4 linked regions of the Homo sapiens genome follow. The protein of the gene in region 2 purifies or fractionates together with the protein of the main gene of each other region. This does not show direct contact. Each region holds a gene or a part of one and is shown on either strand. Other genes may lie near its edges.

Region 1 (4,630 bases), on a different chromosome or scaffold from region 2:
AACAAACTAATACAGTTAGTAACTTAAAAGTTACCAAAATGATCTTAGAATAATTAGTTGCTACCCAAAGGTAAAGAGAAATACTTTACTCTTAAACTTACACGATATTAATTATATACTCACCACATATGAACTAAAGAAAAACAAATGAATACCTAATTAAAAAATGATTAAACTATTAATACTACCTTTAAAATGTATTATTACAAAAGATATTAAGTCTTCAGTCATTTGTTTTAAAACAAAAATCATATCACTACCTTAAATGTTTTATAAAAAGCAGCATCCAATGCTTTCAAAATTTCTTCATCAGGGCGCCACTTCAGTTTCCCTCTGAGACCATGACCTGTCTTGTAAGTTTCTAATGCGATCAAAATATGAAATGGATGTATACGAGCCTAGAAACAAAGTATAAGGAAAATTTTAGCAAAAAACAGTGATTATGTATACTCCTTAGATTTTTGTGTTATTGTAGCTAATAACTACATTTCATATAGAAAAGAGAAAAATGAAAATGTATTAAACTTACACTTAAGAGCCATAATGCAATTTGGTATAATGAACATCTCGAAATACCTTAAAAATGCACTGACGGCATTTCTAAAATTTAGGAGCCACTTTCTCAGTTAGTAGTAGCTAATAAAGAACAATGATAATGCTTACCTTTTTTAATAGTTTTTCATTACACAGTTTTTCACATACTAAAGATACTTCTGAATTTCCTGGTTCAAGTACTGAATTAGCAGTCATCTTTCCTAGATTCCTTAGTAATGCAGTAAGCGGCATTTCTTGTAACAAAGCCTTCCATACCTATTGCAATAACATAGGCAGAAATACCAGGAATTAAGGGAAAATAAATCAGTATAACATACCTATATAAAAAAATATTCATAATACAGTCTCTGAGGCTTTCATTTGGGGTTCAAAGTACTTTCAGAATGAAAAATGTCTAAGTAAAAGGCTTATCAAATAAGCTAACTTGTTTTTTACTAGAAAAAGGATGTGAAGTATATTTTATGAAGGAAATGCATAGATGATTTTTTTTTTAATTAGCAAGGCAGTAGATTTTCTGGAGTGAAACTAACACAAATGCCACCTACATCATGTTGGACATCATGGTAGGTGTTTTAAACAGACATCAATTTCAAGATATATTTTAAATAATTTCTTTTTAAAAGTATAAATATATAGCTACCCCAAGTTTATCCTTTTAGCACCTACACTAAATTACTCATGTTTAATCACATGCTGTAACATATAATTCACTCACCTCTTTAGACTTTAAGTGATTTGTTAAAAGATGTTCTCTAACTAATCTATGTTCTTCTATTAGATGAATGACTTCTAGCTCATCTCTTGTGCGCTTCACTTTCTCTACAGCCTCCAGATACTTTAATAATTTTTCAGTCTCCACAGAGAGTGCTTTTTCTTTATACAATTCATGAACTTCTTTCCAGCCCTTTGTAATATATTTGGTCACAATTGCAAGTCCTTTAACAAGATAAAGAATTGAAAAAGCATGCAGGATTACCAAGTAAAAAAACAGAACATGTTTCCTCAAAATGCATTATATGATCAACATAACTGGATACACAAGAGTTAATGCCCTTACACTGGGATGCTGCTTTCCATGATATAACAATTAAGCAAATGGGGTGAATTAATTTTCTTATTCCATCATTACTATTTAAATATGAGACTTTAGAGTAAAAAAACCTGTATCCTGAGTATTTTGTTACAGAGGCTTTTCTTTCTTTTCTTTTTAAAGACACCAGCATTAGAAAGTTTCAGGTCCATAATCTCAGAACAACTCACGAGAGTACAGATCTATCTCAATTAATATTGTATTGTATTGTAATGTATTATATTATATTAATTATATTCACTTGTCTCTTTTTGCTGTTGAATAAAATATATATATTTACAAAAACAGCAGAAATAAGTAGAAGTGGACAGGGTAGCTTCTTTTACACTATGTTTTAATAGCTGAGAAGTATTACTGCTCAAAAAAAAAAAAAAAAGGAAACAGTAACTTGTTGATTTCCTCCACAATTTCTTCCAATAGAAGAAAGAGAAAAGAGCCTTGGATTGGGGGTGAGAAAGTCTGGGTTCTAGCCTATACTCTGCCAATAAATGGTGGTCTTTCTAGGTCTTAGTTTCACCACTTCTGTAAAACAGCAGGGATTGGATTACAACATTAAAATGTCTATGAGGGACAAGCAAATAAAATAAATAAAACCACCACGGTGAGGCCAGGCACCATGGCTCATGCCTGTAATGCTAGCACTTTGGGAGGCCAAGGAGTGTGGATCACCTGAGGTCAGGGGTTTGAGAACAGTGTGCCCAACGTGGCAAAACTCCATCTCGAAAGCTGAAACTGGATCCCTTCCTTACACCTTATACAAAAATTAATTCAAGATGGATTAAAGACTTACATGTTACACCTAAAACCATAAAAGCCCTAGAAGAAAACCTAGGCAATACCATTCAGGACATAGGCGTGGGCAAGGACTTCATGTCTAAAACACCAAAAGCAATGGCAACAAAAGCCAAAATTCACAAATGGTATCTAATTCAACTAAAGAGCTTCTGCACAGCAAAAGAAACTACCATCAGAGTGAACAGGCAACCTACAGAATGGGAGAAAATTTTTGCAATCTACTCATCTGACAAGGGGCTAATATCCAGAATCTACAAAGAACTCAAACAAATTTACAAGAAAAAAACAACCCCATCAAAAAGTGGGCGAAGGATATGAACAGACACTTCTCAAAAGAAGACATTTATGCAGCCAAAAGACATATGAAAACATGCTCATCATCACTGGCCATCAGAGAAATGCAATTCAAAACCACAATGAGATACCATCTCACATCAGTTAGAATGACGATCATTAAAAAGTCAGGAAACAACAGGTGCTGGAGAGGATGTGGAGAAACAGGAACACTTTTACACTGTTGGTGGGACTGTAAACTAGTTCAACCATTGTGGAAGTCAGTGTGGCGATTCCTCAGGGATCTAGAACTAGAAATACCATTTGACCAAGCAATCCCATTACGGGGTATATACCCAAAGGATTATAAATCATGCTGCTATAAAGACACATGCACACGTATGTTTATTGCGGCACTATTCACAATAGCAAAGACTTGGAACCAGCCCAAATGTCCAGCAATGATAGACTGGATTAAGAAAATGTGGCACATATACACCATGGAATACTATGCAGCCATAAAAAGGATGAGTTCATGTCCTTTGTAGGGACATGGATGAAGCTGGAAACCATCATTCTCAGCAAACTATCGCAAGGACAAAAAACGAAACACTGCATGTTCTCACTCATAGGTGGGAATTGAACAATGAGAACACATGGACACAGGAAGGGGAACATCACACACCAGGGCCTGTTGTGGGGTGGGGGGAGGGGGGAGGGATAGCATTAGGAGATATACGTAACGTTAAATGACGAGTTAATGGGTGCAGCACACCAACATGGCACATGTATACATATGTAACAAACCTGCACGTTGTGCACATGTACCCTAGAACTTAAAGTATAATAAAAAAAAATTAGCTGGGCGTGGTGGCACATGCCTGTAATACCAGCTACTCAGGAGGCTGAGGCAGGAGAATCACTTGAACTGAGGAGGCAGAGGTTACAGTGGGCCAAGATCGTGCCACTGTGCTCCAGCCTGGCCAACAGAGTGAGACTCTGTCTCAAACAAACAAACAAACAAACAAACACAGTGATGTAATAGAGAGTTGTTAGGGTGTGGTGACTGAACAGAGTGTGCCCTGACAAGTGGTGTAGACACGTATTGACTTAGTGCTGCCAAAAGAAAAAAAACTTACTTTCAAGAGAAGCCAGAATATGGGTTTTTATGTCGATTTTTAAAGATAATGACAAAGAATTCATTTTTACCCAAAAATATTGTATAGGCCACATGAAACACATCTCTATGCCAACTGAGCCTATTATGTTATTTTTGAATGCTAAATAACTTGATCAAAAGTTAACACTAACATGCAGGAACTTCTCAAGTATTGTGACTCTTGCTATCTTCCAGATTTTGGTGCAAAATCATCTTAAATGAGTAAATGTTTCCTGTGAGTATATCTTCTATTTTGTTTTTCCAGTGAAAATAAAAATTCCTTAAAGCAGTTTTATCCTACCCGGTTCTGTAATTGCGCTGGCCATGCAGTGGGTGCACAATAAAAATACCATACCTGATGACTTGAATCACATTTTGACTTGTTTTGTCTGTTATAAATACACATTACACTTAAAGGCATTAAAATACTATTAATTCTGTAGCTTAGAGTTTTTCCAAATTTTTAAGCTTTGAAATGCTAGGGATTCTCTGTCCAATGTGATATTGCTATTACTAACATGGTTTCAACTGTGAGTTCTGCCCTCAACAATTTCAAATTAAAGAATCCTATGTGTGGAAGTAAGTTTAGGAAACATCTACTAATTCCTCATTATATAGACCAAAAAGACAAAGCACAGAATAATTATTTTCACAAGTTCAGAAACTAATTGGTCCAGTTAGAACTAGTAATGGGCGGTCTTTCTCTTAGTCTAGTACTTGCTCCACACTTCCAAGACACATCTCAACAAACCAATAAA
Region 2 (4,266 bases):
TTTAGGGGAAGGGGGAAATGGAGAGTTGCTGTTCCGTGGGTATAGTTTCAGTTATACATGAATACATTCCAGAGATCTGCTGCACAACACTGTGCATATAGGTAACAAGACTGTATTGTACACTTAAACATTGAAGAGAGTAGAGCTCATGTGAAGTTCTTACCACACACACACACACACACACAAAAAGAAAACTAATCGCAAAAAATAAAACAACAAAAAAAACAACTCTGGTGTGGGATATTGATAGTAAGGAAGTCTAAGTTGGGGAGACGCAGGGGGTGCATGAAAACGATGCTGTCTTCCTCAATTTTTCTGTGAACATAAAACTGCTCTGAAAAACAAAGTGTGCTTAAAAGAAAGAGAAAAGAAAATCAGTTAAGTACATTCAATTTGTTAGTAATTCCTTCAATAATAAAAATTCATTGAAACATATTACTCCCCCTTCCTCTGGGCCTTCATCCCTCTTTTCTCCTTGCCTTAATGCATGTATGGGTATGCTACATAATTAGCGCTTCATCATGTGTTTTTATATTCTCTAGTTGTTTTGCCTTCTCAAGTTGTATTTTAAGCTTCTGGAGATAGAGATCTTCCTTGTATTTTGTAACCGTTATCACACATGGTTTAATGGTAATAATGAAATGCAAGAATTTAATATGTGACATATCATCAATTCTCAGATGACTTTTTTAAGTAAAGCCTTTCCCAATCAATTCCAGAAGCCTAATCTCTCAACAACACTCACATTGATAGCACTATCTCTGGACAGCTAGGACCCAGACCTACTCATATTGGCAATTTTTCTCTAATATGCTACAATGTGTTTTCATCTGCAATTGTTCTTTACTCTCAAGAAAGTGGGATCATGTTTCTGACCTTTGATACAGCACCCCACATCACTTAGTGCAATGCTTTCATCAAAATGGATCTTTCCATAGATGCTGATTCCTGTTCCCATTTCCCACTCCCATCTCCTCCAACCAGCCACAAGATGCAACAATGACATGGCGAGAGAGAATTCTGTAAGGGCGGCAATCTCCTTGGCCTTGTTGCTCTATATCCCTAATAACAGGTAACTCTGATAAATGAGTGCACACATGTAAATTTCCACAAAGGGAATTATAGTAGGTTTATCTTTTATTCTAATGTTGCTAGAATAAGAACAAAATTAAAATAAGCACACACACACAAAATGCCTCTGTGAATCAGTCACAGGATTTCTCTAAGTCTGGGCTGGTGTCCTTTCTCTTCTGCTGCTTGCATAGCTCTTTGATGTTCTCTATCTCTGCAGGACTAAACTTGGAGGTTAGCATCACATTGTCATAATCAAATTCTTCATCAAGTGAAAAAAGTTGAACTTCATCTCCAAGTATCTATAAAAGGTAACAAAGGAGGAAAAAACATACACAATCATTGTAAATGAAGATAAAGTTGAAAAATTAACTCCCTATTAATATTTAATTAAACCTTTTTTCAGACTTCAGCACTCTCAGCTGATTAAGCTGTTTTTAAGTAAAGAAATAAATTTAATTATTCAATTTGACCTAATTTAAGCCTCTTAATATGCTCCATTTGTACCATGCTCTATCTGAATGAATATCATTAACTAATGCTGCCCAAGGCAAGAATCAGAAAGTCTCCCTTGCATATACTCATTATACATTTTACCACTTGTAGTGTCAGGACTACAGAAGCATACAGAAAAACCAACAGTTATATTAAAATGTGAGAAAAATATACACTAAGATTTTTTTATCAACCTTAAATAGATTTTCACCATTTGCTAAAAAAGATCTATATTAATAAAACTTACTTTTTAAAGATAAAAATACCCTACATTGAATATACTTCTTCAGATAATACCTATAACTCTTGGCTAATAACAGTAAAACTTGAAACATATTTTAAATTTAAAAGTCCAGGATCTCTTTGTTTCTACCAAGAATTTAAAAATATTACAGTTTATCTATAAGTAAAGTAGTTACAAAGAGATGTAATAATTTTGAATCTATTCATAATTTGTGAGTTTTAAAGACTTCCTAAAGGAAGGCAGATAAAAAAGCATATTTTCCAATAAACCAAGAGTATGCCTTAAATCTCTTGTATCGCCCCCTAAAAAGCCTCTCCAAAAACAAATGGTGTGTGATACAATGAAATCATCCAGTACTTCTATGTAGCTCCACAATATGCATAGTGATGCTGAAATAATTGAAAACTATGGTTTATGCAAGAATGAAAAAATGTCCCGAAGCTATAATCAGCTTTAAATATTCTTGCATGGAAGATGATCTCATTGAGTGGCTTATGCAATGTTCGTAAAAATGTAGCATGTAGCTCAGAAACTATCTGCTGTTACTAAAGGTGAAAGAAAAAATAATGAGTAGTTATCTCCTATCTGTTCCACAAGTTATGTTTTGAAGTTAGGTGTGCAGTGCTAATAGCAAACGCTCAGCCATTTATCATCTTTTGTTAGTAAAATCAGCAGGAGAACAACTTCTGGAGATGCGTTCATTTCCTGTTTATCAGAAAGGACCTTAGTGCTTTCCTGACAAAACTGCCACTGGGTTTCCATGGTGAGTTTGCCACGGTGAGTTTCCACCATGTGTCAGCCCTGATACTAGGAACCACGTGGCATCAGCAGTGATATTCAAGCAACCCTGCTGGTAGTCACTGTTACCCCTACCTTATAAAGCTCTGAAAGGTTAAGTAACTTGCCCAAAATACACAGTTAGTAAGGGAGAGAAGCAATATTTGGATCCAGGGTAATCTGCTTCAAATAAAGCCTCACCTGCTCAACAGAAACACCAGCAAGAATCAACCTTGAAGTTTCCACTAAGCCAAGTCACAGCCTTTGGAGAGAAGACCTTTTCTAAATAAGATGATCCATTCTCACAGCCTACCATTAGAAAACTGTACTCAAGGCTACATGTAATACCATGACTATCTTAAAACCCAGCTGTACACAAAAAGCAAATCAGCCTGCAAGGCTGATCAGTCCATTTTGATCACTGTCTGAGATCAAATTTATCATCAACACAGCCAAAGTGACAGTGGGACAATCTTGCTTAGATGGCTCAAATGCAGAAACACACACACACAATGACACAAGATGTTCATTTCCTGAATGTTAACTGTTCTTGCTGTCTCCAGCTCTACTCAGCAGTAAGTACTGAGGCCTGCAGGCTTGGCTACAACACCATCTGGAGCCGATTCTAGCTGATCCTGGCAAAACATAAGGAGGAGAACCTGTTTCCACCAATATATTCAGTCTGATGGGAATTTTGCTGCCCTTTCATGCCTGGGTAAAGGCCTTTCATCACATGTCTATTAAGCTTCAAGCTGCCTATACCTGCATGTGTCCCCTATACTAGGTCTTTAAATTCTACCTTCAAGCCTCTAAAACCTGCCTACACCTTACTAGCCATCCTCACTAGATGCAGTCACTTTGTCTTCACCCACCTCTCACTTAGGGGTTAGAATACAATTTCAAATTAGACAAATCCGTTTGCTGTGTTAAAATCTCAGTGACACCATACCATGCCCCCGACTCCCTCTACAGAACACAAATAACCTCAATCCCCACCTCCCTTACCTTTACTTGTTCACTCAATAAACATTTATTATATAGCAGATTCTGGGAACATAAAGTGATTATAGCAAAATCTGTGTCTACAAGGTTTCATAACTTCAAGGAGAAGACAAAAGTATAGGAATGATTTCAGTATCACGTGCTTTGCTCTCCAATAGAGGAATGCAAAAAAGGGAAACAGAAGCATAGAGAGGAAAGTGCAGAAGCTTCACTTACTCTTCTATTTTTTTTTTTAAACAGAGACTCCCTCTGTCACCCAGGCAGGAGTGCAGTGGCATGATCTCAGCTCACTGCAACCTCCGCCTCCCAGGTTCAAGCAATTCTCCTGCCTCAGCCTCCTGAGTAGCTGGGACAACTGGTGCATACCACCAGGCCTGGCTAATTTTTGTATTTTTAGTAGAGATAGGGTTTCGCCATGTCGGCCAGGCTGGTTTCAAACTCCTGGCCTCAAGTGATCCACCCACTGCAGCCTCCCAGAGTGCTGGGATTACAGGCATGAGCCACTGTACCTGGCCTCTTACTCTTGATTGAGTTTTGCCAGTCTCCAGAAAATCCTACTAGCCTCCCCACACATCACTTCACTTATTACCTACCTCATCCTAGCAACCCAGATAAAGTAAGGCCTGTATTTCGGACTTACTTCTAAACTCTGATCAGGGCTCCCACGGCCAAGTTGG
Region 3 (4,630 bases), on a different chromosome or scaffold from region 2:
CAAATGTATAATCCACTTATATAAAATACGTAAAATAAGCAAATTCATAGAAAAAGTAGAATATAGATTACCAGGGGATGATGGTATGGGGGTATGGGGAATTACTTTTTAATGGGTACAGTTTCTGTTGGAGTAATAAAACATTTTTTGAAAATAAATAGTGCTGATGGTTGTACAACACTGTGAATATAATTAATGCCAATGAACTGTACATTTAAAAATGGTTAAATTGCAAATTTTATGTTATGTATATTTTACCACAATAAATATTTTTAAATCCCTTTTCTGCTTATTAAAAAAAAAAAAAAGATGTCCATTACTGACTCGTCACACTACAAGAAGGGAGGTTATATATTTCTGGACCAGAAAGCCAGAGCGCTTCATCATTCTAAGTACTGGCCCCAAAGCACTATAAATGTTAGGTTAGCCATCTAATTGGGAACAGGCAACACACTTTATTCATGTTGTGGCACTGATGTGTAGAAGTGGGTGGGATGAAAACAGATCTGATATGTATCAGGCAGTAGAACAAATTAATGCAATGTATTGTCCTCCCCTCCACTCCCCAGCCATTTGTAGGACAATTTGAACATGAACATACACACACACACCCTCCTTTTGGGGAGTTATAGATCCCTTTAAGAAAAGCACAAATGCTCCCTCCTTGAATATAATTTGGGGGTTTTATACACTGCCAGAAACCCTAAGATTCTGGCCCAAGGTTAAGAATATGTACTATAGGGAAACACTGATTTCCTTGGATTTCAATTTCTGTAAGGATTAGACTTTTGATGATCTCAAAGGACTGTCTGGTCTCTAAAACTTAAAAATTATGCTTTTGAAAGAACATTACATTAAGAAAATGTAGAAAAAGCAAGCTAGCTAGAACATGATGTTGGCAATGAAGCACAACAAAGGCAGTACACAGAGAATGTGAGCGTGGGATCTCAAAAGGTCTGTAAAATGAGAAAAAAGGTTTAGTAAAAAGTTAAAGGAGGTTTACTAAATAACTTATATTAAATAATTTTGGATTTCTTGAAATTAAGTCAAATTTCTAGATTTTTCCTTTGAAAAGATAAAGCAAACTCCGTAACTTACAAATCATTCCAAGTCATTCTTTTTCTGTTTTGTATAAAATAAAAAATCTGAAAAAAATCAAAGCTATAGCCACAAATAGTGTATTTTCCTATTATATTCACATACTATATTTTTAACCTTAACAAGCCTACTGGCTATAAATACTGTCGAAATGTCAAAATTTAAAAAGGTAAATGACAACAACACCCTTAGTACCAATATACCAAAAACAACAAAAATCTTAGCATACTCTTAGGAGCATTTTAATACACTAATATTGATATTGTACCATTTCCCAAAGAGTGTGTTAGAATAGGCCCTCAAGATTTCATGAAGAAGAGGGTTGTATAGGTGAGTTAACATTGGCAAGTGCTGCTCCCTAGAGTTGGCGTGTTGTCCCCAGGTATACAAGCTACAGAAGAAGCTAAGCAGCCGGTAAAGACACATATTTAATTTTGTTTAATTAGTGCTTTGATACAAATTCCCATCTGTTTGAATCTATGAATCTTGGTCTCATTGAACACATTAACATTTCTCACATAGCAAACTATTAAAATGTGGCTGCATGTATTATGGAAAGGCTGGCATTATATATAGAATATTGGGAGCACTACAATTTATCTGATGGTACTTAACAAGTGATTCACTGAATGAGAGTATCTTGTGGACCTCTAAAGCAGTTGTTGGCTGATGGCTTTAAACATCAGCTATGTAAAAAAAATTAAAAGGTAGTCTCTGTGTTTCAAATTTAGGTGAGTATGGAACAGTTTTTGTATTGGCAAGTCTTATGCAAGTCAGCTACTATGGAAGGAACACACTTTAAACTTTGGGGGAAATCACTGTTTTGTTTCATCTTTCATTTTGGTCGAGCTTGGTGACAGGTTTTATATTAAAAGCTTCTCAGCTCTGGAGTGGAATGTTCAGTTTTTTTCCTCTAGACACACTAAGTAATGTGTTTTTAAAGTTATACTATGTAATGTCTAGCCCCTAAGAAATGTAGCATAGGCATGTATTTAAAAAAAGGTGTTTTGAAGAATACGTCAATTCAGAAAATGATCCAATATAATGATTCCCAAATCATTTTGGGTGGAGCAAGACTCCCACCCCTTCTTTTTGTTACACTTTCCAGTGGAAAAAGTTAGTTACAATAAGAAAATATCACTGCATGGGAAAAAATTGGGAGAGAAGGGAGATATGCATACATACACACACACACACACACACACACACACACACACACACACACGCCTAAACAATAGGGGTATAAATCATTCCTTTTTTGAATACAGCACTATGATATCTTAAAAAGTCCAAAAAGCCTGTTGTTTAAATATACACCAGCAAACAGTATAAGATTAGCCAACGGATCCTAGACAAACTAAATTGGTGATGGTAATGCCATCCTAACAGTAATCTATAAGAAAGAATAGTGGGAATCAAACACCATGGTCAACTCAGGGACAGTCACTGGTTAAAACGTTGCTGGAGTGTTAGCACGCGCAGTGGAGCCTAAGAGCGATGCATGCAGAGTTGCACGGCAGCCAGGGTTCTTAGAACTCCGAAAGAGTGCTTAATAAACTCTGGTAAGGCAACAATTAAAGTCTATTAGTACAAACATTTAATAATTCTTCATAATTCACCAGCTTCTAGTGGACCACCATAATTTATACCAAAATGAAAATCAGGATGTGCATGTCATTGCCTCTAAGAAAGGCCGTTTTGAATCAGTCTGTGGTCCCTTAGAAGGACTCTCCCAGCCCACCTGTAGGAACTGAACTGCATTTCCTTGAATTACAGATCTTGGATAGCACTTTGGATTAGTAATCATATGTTAAGGCTTTCGATCTCATTTACATTATTGAACTGATGTTTAATCTGGAACATGACAGTGTCTTTTATCTTGCACTAAAATAGGGATTATAATCGTTGTTCCTTAACTACAACACAGGAATATGACAATTGATCAAATGACAGCAGTGAGATTTATCTGCTAAGAGAAAAGTAAACTCACTAGAATGTTCTTTTGTTAACACATGCAGAATTAATGCATAATGATGCTAGAAAATAATCCTCATATAGAAACATGATTACCGTGTGATGCAATCTTCTGCCTGCTTCTCATTGTTCATCTTGTGATATAGCACAGCGGCCACTGCCAGGGGGCCTGCATCCCCACAAAGGAAGGTGATGGAGCGCTTGGTTAAGCAGTTCAGACTTTGCTTTACATAGCCATGTGCTAACTGTAGGTAGGCAGGGTCCCCAAATACATCATAAAGATGTAAGTAAAGCACAGCAATACCTGAAAAAAAAAAAAGGAAACAATGTAAAGATGAGGAAAGGCAGTTATTTTATTATTTTTGGCATGGTGTCTACTCAGCAGCGATTTTTGATAACCTGTAGCAAATTTATTAATGATCTGGAAGTTTGGGTGACTTTAATTCTAGGCTCAGCTCTATTAGTAAGCAACTCTACGAACCAGCATAAGCCAACCACTTACTTGTCCTCAGTTTCCTCATTATGACAACTCTATTAAATAATAAGGTCTCTAAGGCTCTGGCCAATAAAGAGACACACAGCCTATTATTAGTCTTTGTTGTACTCTGGTTATTGTGTTAATGTATTCTTCTTGATGTCGAAATGATGTGTCATTAAACTAGGGTTCCAAATAAATGTAATTGATTTACCAATAATTATTTAATAAGAAAGGGTTTGTTGTGAACTAAAGAAATTCAAAGACCAGGGAATGAAAATTTCAATTTCTCTTTACGTAAAAGTTTGTTTTGTGTGTGTGTGTGTTTTTTTTTTTTTTTTTGTGAAAAGGTAGTTAATGTAACCAAATCCCCTGCCCCAGTATCCTTCCAGGCAGGGATTATAAGAAAGTTATTTGATAGCTGAGAAAAAATATTCAACCCCTAGATTTTTTTCTGTCGAGGGCCCACCTACTTTGGTAAATGTAATGTAAAAGCCACCAATGACTTTTGCCTTGGGCTCTACTTGATCAGTTTCTTACCCTACTCTTGAAGCCTGAAATATGTAATAGAGGCATTGTCTGCATGTCCTTATTTCAAATGCCTGTCACAGTGGAAAGAGCCTTCCCTCTGAAGCTAACTGGTCTCAGGGCAGACTCAAAGATGTGGAGTAGGAAGCCTGCCTGCCTGCCTGCAGCATATCCAGAAACCCATTTTTTCCCTTGAAGTACATTTTCCATCTCATTTGCGATTTTTAGAAGACACAGAACCTCTGTTTAAATTTAAATTAATAGAGCCAATCTTCACGGATTTCAATGCAGTAAAAATGCTGTCTGCAAAATTACTTTCCCTGTACTGAGGACAATTTTAAATTTAGATAGTTTTCTCATTTTGCATGGGTAATCTCCAAAGCTTTGTGCTACAGACAATTCAATTTCACATGTATATTAAGGCCAAATTTTCATTTCCTGCCAAAGTTAATAACCTTGACTGCTCTTTCAAAGTGGCTTGGTGTTAGTAATCCCACAAGCTGATGATCAGATGCATCAATGCTTAAGGTTTGTAGACAAGTGTACAAAACCTTG
Region 4 (4,630 bases), on a different chromosome or scaffold from region 2:
ATGAAAAATAAGCATGTTTAAGTTTAGATCTTTATAGAAGATTTCAAGATCTGCAAATAAATATTATCCCCTCTTTTTTAGACTTCCTGGGAATGAAAATGGTTGGTGAGCTGCTACGAATGTCGGGTGCCTTTTTCATGCGGCGTACCTTTGGTGGCAATAAACTCTACTGGGCTGTATTCTCTGAATATGTAAAAACTATGTTACGGGTAAATGCAAATAATTCCCAACTACTCTTAAGCCATATTTTCTTCACTGATGTTTGCTCATTTAAACTCTTAACTTCTGAATAGAACACTTAGCTATTTTGCTTTCCCTCAAGAACTGCTTATAACCTCAGCAATTGGTTTAATCTGTGTGACTCTCTTGTTTAATTTTCACTGTAAGCTGTGTTTGTTCAGGAAGCTTGGGAGGGAGCTTGGGAAAAGGAATCAAAAGAAGCATTTATCATTTTGAGAGTAGGCAATGGGTTTTGTGTTTTGTTTGTTTTCTCTTTAAAGAATGGTTATGCTCCTGTTGAATTTTTCCTCGAAGGGACAAGAAGCCGCTCTGCCAAGACATTGACTCCTAAATTTGGTAGGTCACTACAGATTAAAAGGAAAAATACAAACCCAAAGACATCAGCTGCTACATAAAACTTGACGCTTTATTTAACAAGATATTCTTTTCAAGTGTAAATGTATAACTGTTGATATTTACGGGATTAGTGTATAATGTATGCTTTTAGTATTTTCCGTTTATGTGCTCATGTTTGCTCTGCTCTTCAATATGTTGATGAAGCATTTCTCCCTGTGTTTTGCAGGTCTTCTGAATATTGTGATGGAGCCATTTTTTAAAAGAGAAGTTTTTGATACCTACCTTGTCCCAATTAGTATCAGTTATGATAAGATCTTGGAAGAAACTCTTTATGTGTATGAGCTTCTAGGGGTTCCTAAACCAAAAGAGTCTACAACTGTACGTGAGCTTGATTTTAGCTTAATTGAGAGAATGTGCTGACTGACACATCAACTAATTTCTAAATTTACTGCTTTTCGTTTTCTTCCCCCCCTGTTATGGTACTATTAGGGGTTGCTGAAAGCCAGAAAGATTCTCTCTGAAAATTTTGGAAGCATCCATGTGTACTTTGGAGATCCTGTGTCACTTCGATCTTTGGCAGCTGGGAGGATGAGTCGGAGCTCATATAACTTGGTTCCAAGGTGTGACCTGTGTTTTAATAACTGTCTTAGAAATGAGGATTAAAATCCAAAGGTGTGAGTTGCAATGCTGGAGTTGACCACTTCTCTTGATTTACTTAAGATTACAGAGAAAATGATCAGAAATGCTGTTATCATTCCGTTTTCATCAGTGGAAACCTTCAATTAAAGAAGAATTATGTGTTTGTCCCAAAAAAAGATAAGCTGTGAGATATGTATGTCAAATATGCAAAATCAGACAATGATCATGTTTCTCAAGGGAACTAAAGTGGGAATAAATAATGCCATTATTAACAAGTATATGTGCAGGAATTGTTGAGCACTATTGGTAAGCTAGCCAAAGTATGTACTATTATTTTTGACCCTAGAAAGGATTGCATAATGGTAATGAATGGGAGTGAGTCCTTAGTCTCTAGAGAGTTATAGTTTTATAGGCAAGAAAATATATTAGGTTCTTTCAGGATAAAGAACACAGATACACATTTGAGTTTTCTTAATTAGGAGAAATATACCTGGACAAGTAAGGGAGACAAACCATCTGCCCCTCCAGGCCTCATGTGCTGCAACATCATTTGTAACTTATCTGTAGCTTTAGCAGTTTCCCAGCAGCTACATTAGTCATCACAGACGCTTATGTTAGTTTTTTTCCTGACACAGGCTCTCTCTTTAGATCTCAAATTGGTTTGGCTGGCTATTACCTAGTACAGGGCACCCTTACTGGCTGCATCTTTCACATTAAGCCACCTGTGTGGCAATTTTTAGGTCATGTGTGTATCTCTGCTCCAGCCAGCTCTGTGCAGGCCTTATTGTACTATTCAAAGTTTGGTAATCCATGCATGAAGTCAGACAAACTGAATGGCACCCATTCAGTATAAAATAGTTATTATATAATCTGTTAAGTGTGTTCTACAATGGAGATATGTTCAGCGTGCTATGCATTCTGAAAAGATAGTAATTTAGTCTACTGGGGCAGGCATCCATTCTCAGAGAAACGATGTATCCTATTTAGGAAGCAACAAAAGTTTTTTGCCTGGAACCAGGAATAATAGGACCCTGGACCCCTTCAGTATTTTTACCATCTCTCAAGAGGATATTCCAGAAATGTATGGTCAGATTACACTATAGTAAAGCAAAGGAATACTGTTTGCACCTGACCTGAGAGAATTCAGTTGGCACAAAGTATGAGAAGCCTTCTAAAACGTCTAGAGTCTTTTTCCATCCCCATTTGTCTAAGTAACAGAACTGTAATTTGTTGCTCTGTGCTCTTCCTTTTAGATACATTCCTCAGAAACAGTCTGAGGACATGCATGCCTTTGTCACTGAAGTTGCCTACAAAATGGAGCTTCTGCAAATTGAAAACATGGTTTTGAGCCCCTGGACCCTAATAGTTGCTGTTCTGCTTCAGAACCGGCCATCCATGGACTTTGATGCTCTGGTGGAAAAGACTTTATGGCTAAAAGGCTTAACCCAGGCATTTGGAGGGTTTCTCATTTGGCCTGGTATGTAGGTAGGACATATGTGTTGAGAATGCTTGCTTAATTTGGAAGAGTTAAAACCTGGACCTGAAAAATCTATAGAGGACTTGAGCAAAGGATTGCTCAGAAAGAGAAAGGACAGGCCGGGCGCGGTGGTTCACACCTGTAATCCCAGCACTTTGGGAGGCCAAGGCAGGTGGATCACGAGGTCAGGAGATTGAGACCATCCTGGCTAACGCGGTGAAACCCCGTCTCTACTAAAAAATAGAAAAAATTAACCAGGCGTGGTGGTAGGCGCCTGTAGTCCCAGCTACTCGGGAGGCTGAGGCAGGAGAATGGCATGAACCCAGGAGGCGGAGCTTGCAGTGAGCCGAGATTGTGCCACTGCACTCCAGCTAGGCAACAGAGCGAGACTCTGTCTCAAAAAAGAAAGAAAAAGAGAAAGGACACCAAATCTGTTTTTATCACTATAGGACACAGTGAACACAGCACGTTGATTATTTGAGAATAATTGTTTACATGTCATTTCCCACTACGAGACTCTGAATATCTTGAGGACTAGAATACCATTTCCTTGGCACCTAGTACGGTGGAAAATAAAGTCATGAATCCTAGCCAGGCATGGTGGTACACACCTATAATCCCAGCTACTTGGGAGGCTGAGGTGGGAGGATCACTTGAGCCCAGGAGTTCGAGACCAGCCTCAGTAACATAGTGAGACCCCATCTCCAAAAAAAAAAAAAAAAGGCCGGGCGTGGTGGCTCACACCTGTAATCCCAGCACTTTGGGAGGCTGAGGCGGGCGGATCACGAGGTCAGCAGTTCCAGACCAGCCTGACCAACATGGTGAAACTCCGTCTCTACTAAAAACACAAAAATTAGCCGGGCATGGTGGCGTGCACCTGTAATCCCAGCTACTCGGGAGGCTGAGGCAGGAAAATTGCTTGAACCTGGGAGGCAGAGATTGCAGTGAGCCAAGATTGCGCCACTGCACTCCAGCCTGGGTGATAGAGCGAGATTCCGTCTCAAAAAAAAAAAAAAATTGTACAGGCTACAGTTGGAAATGCGTTTTTTTTTAAAGACCAGATAATTATTTGAAGTCAAGTACCTACTGTTCTTTGATCAACCCAATACTGAATACCTCCTCTGTGCTGGGTACTACCAGGGATATGAAGATGAACAAGATGCCATCCCCATCCTGGACGTTCCCCTGGGTTGCAGAGGGCAGGGTGGGTGGGTAATGTGTAAACAAGTTGTGAGGGTTCAGTGAACAGAGACAAGGAGCAACATGCATGCTGCAGAGGGTTCCTGAGAGTGCTGCAGAGGAAAGGGACCATACTCAGGAAGACTTCACAGAAGCGACTTTTGAACCCTTCAGGAAGACCAGGAGAGGATCCTCGCCAAGGCAGGGATGAGGAATGCAAGATGGGAGGCTTGGGCCCCAGAGATTCATCAGTGATATTAAAGTGTTGGCCCAGATGGGGTGGTGGGTAGATGGAAAATAAAGATGGACCTCCCCGCCTCCTCCCCACCATCCACCATCAGAAGACTGGAGGTATAGAAACAAGTTAGGAGGCTGCTCTGTCCCAATGAGAAATGCAGGATGCCTGAGATGCCTGAGCCGCAGCAGTGGAGGCACTCAGGGCACAGCCAAGAGATGAGGAGGATTTACTGACAAAAATGCCAGTCACCAAGAGAGAGACAAATCAGACACCTGTTCTCAGTGCTGTGATGGGCTGGGTCTGGTAGGAGGCAAAGGATGTGTTAATTATGATACAAGTAGCAAGTGTTGGATGTCATGAGAAATAGCTAAAAGGGCTCAAACCCATCATTGTTTGGCCCAGGAACATATGAAAACATAGGTACTTGTTTTTCTAAAGTGTTTTGCTTTTTCAGGATGGGATAAATGCCATAACTAATCCATAACTAAGAGTATCTGTTCAGTGTCACTACAGTTCTGTTC

The links.
Region 1: the proteins of IFTAP (region 2) and RO60 purify together in Homo sapiens (affinity purification with mass spectrometry; one large-scale study listed by BioGRID and IntAct). This does not show direct contact.
Region 3: the proteins of IFTAP (region 2) and LANCL1 purify together in Homo sapiens (affinity purification with mass spectrometry; one large-scale study listed by BioGRID and IntAct). This does not show direct contact.
Region 4: the proteins of IFTAP (region 2) and GNPAT purify together in Homo sapiens (affinity purification with mass spectrometry; one large-scale study listed by BioGRID and IntAct). This does not show direct contact.

What each region holds. Positions count from the first base shown.
Region 1 is NC_000001.11:193,072,681-193,077,310, reverse strand, and holds part of RO60 (RNA-binding protein RO60), read right to left. Parts: intron 1,492-4,630; coding exon 1,271-1,491; intron 811-1,270; coding exon 664-810; intron 399-663; coding exon 261-398; intron 1-260. UniProt on the Homo sapiens protein: RNA-binding protein that binds to misfolded non-coding RNAs, pre-5S rRNA, and several small cytoplasmic RNA molecules known as Y RNAs.
Region 2 is NC_000011.10:36,656,126-36,660,391, reverse strand, and holds the end of IFTAP (intraflagellar transport-associated protein), read right to left. Parts: intron 1,374-4,266; coding exon 1,206-1,373; 3' UTR 1,120-1,205; downstream 1-1,119. UniProt on the Homo sapiens protein: Seems to play a role in ciliary BBSome localization, maybe through interaction with IFT-A complex.
Region 3 is NC_000002.12:210,451,939-210,456,568, forward strand, and holds part of LANCL1 (glutathione S-transferase LANCL1), read right to left. Parts: intron 3,377-4,630; coding exon 3,169-3,376; intron 1-3,168. UniProt on the Homo sapiens protein: Functions as a glutathione transferase. Catalyzes conjugation of the glutathione (GSH) to artificial substrates 1-chloro-2,4-dinitrobenzene (CDNB) and p-nitrophenyl acetate.
Region 4 is NC_000001.11:231,265,212-231,269,841, forward strand, and holds part of GNPAT (dihydroxyacetone phosphate acyltransferase), read left to right. Parts: intron 1-81; coding exon 82-209; intron 210-500; coding exon 501-576; intron 577-802; coding exon 803-954; intron 955-1,065; coding exon 1,066-1,196; intron 1,197-2,468; coding exon 2,469-2,692; intron 2,693-4,630. UniProt on the Homo sapiens protein: Dihydroxyacetonephosphate acyltransferase catalyzing the first step in the biosynthesis of plasmalogens, a subset of phospholipids that differ from other glycerolipids by having an alkyl chain attached through a vinyl ether linkage at the sn-1 position of the glycerol backbone, and which unique physical properties have an impact on various aspects of cell signaling and membrane biology.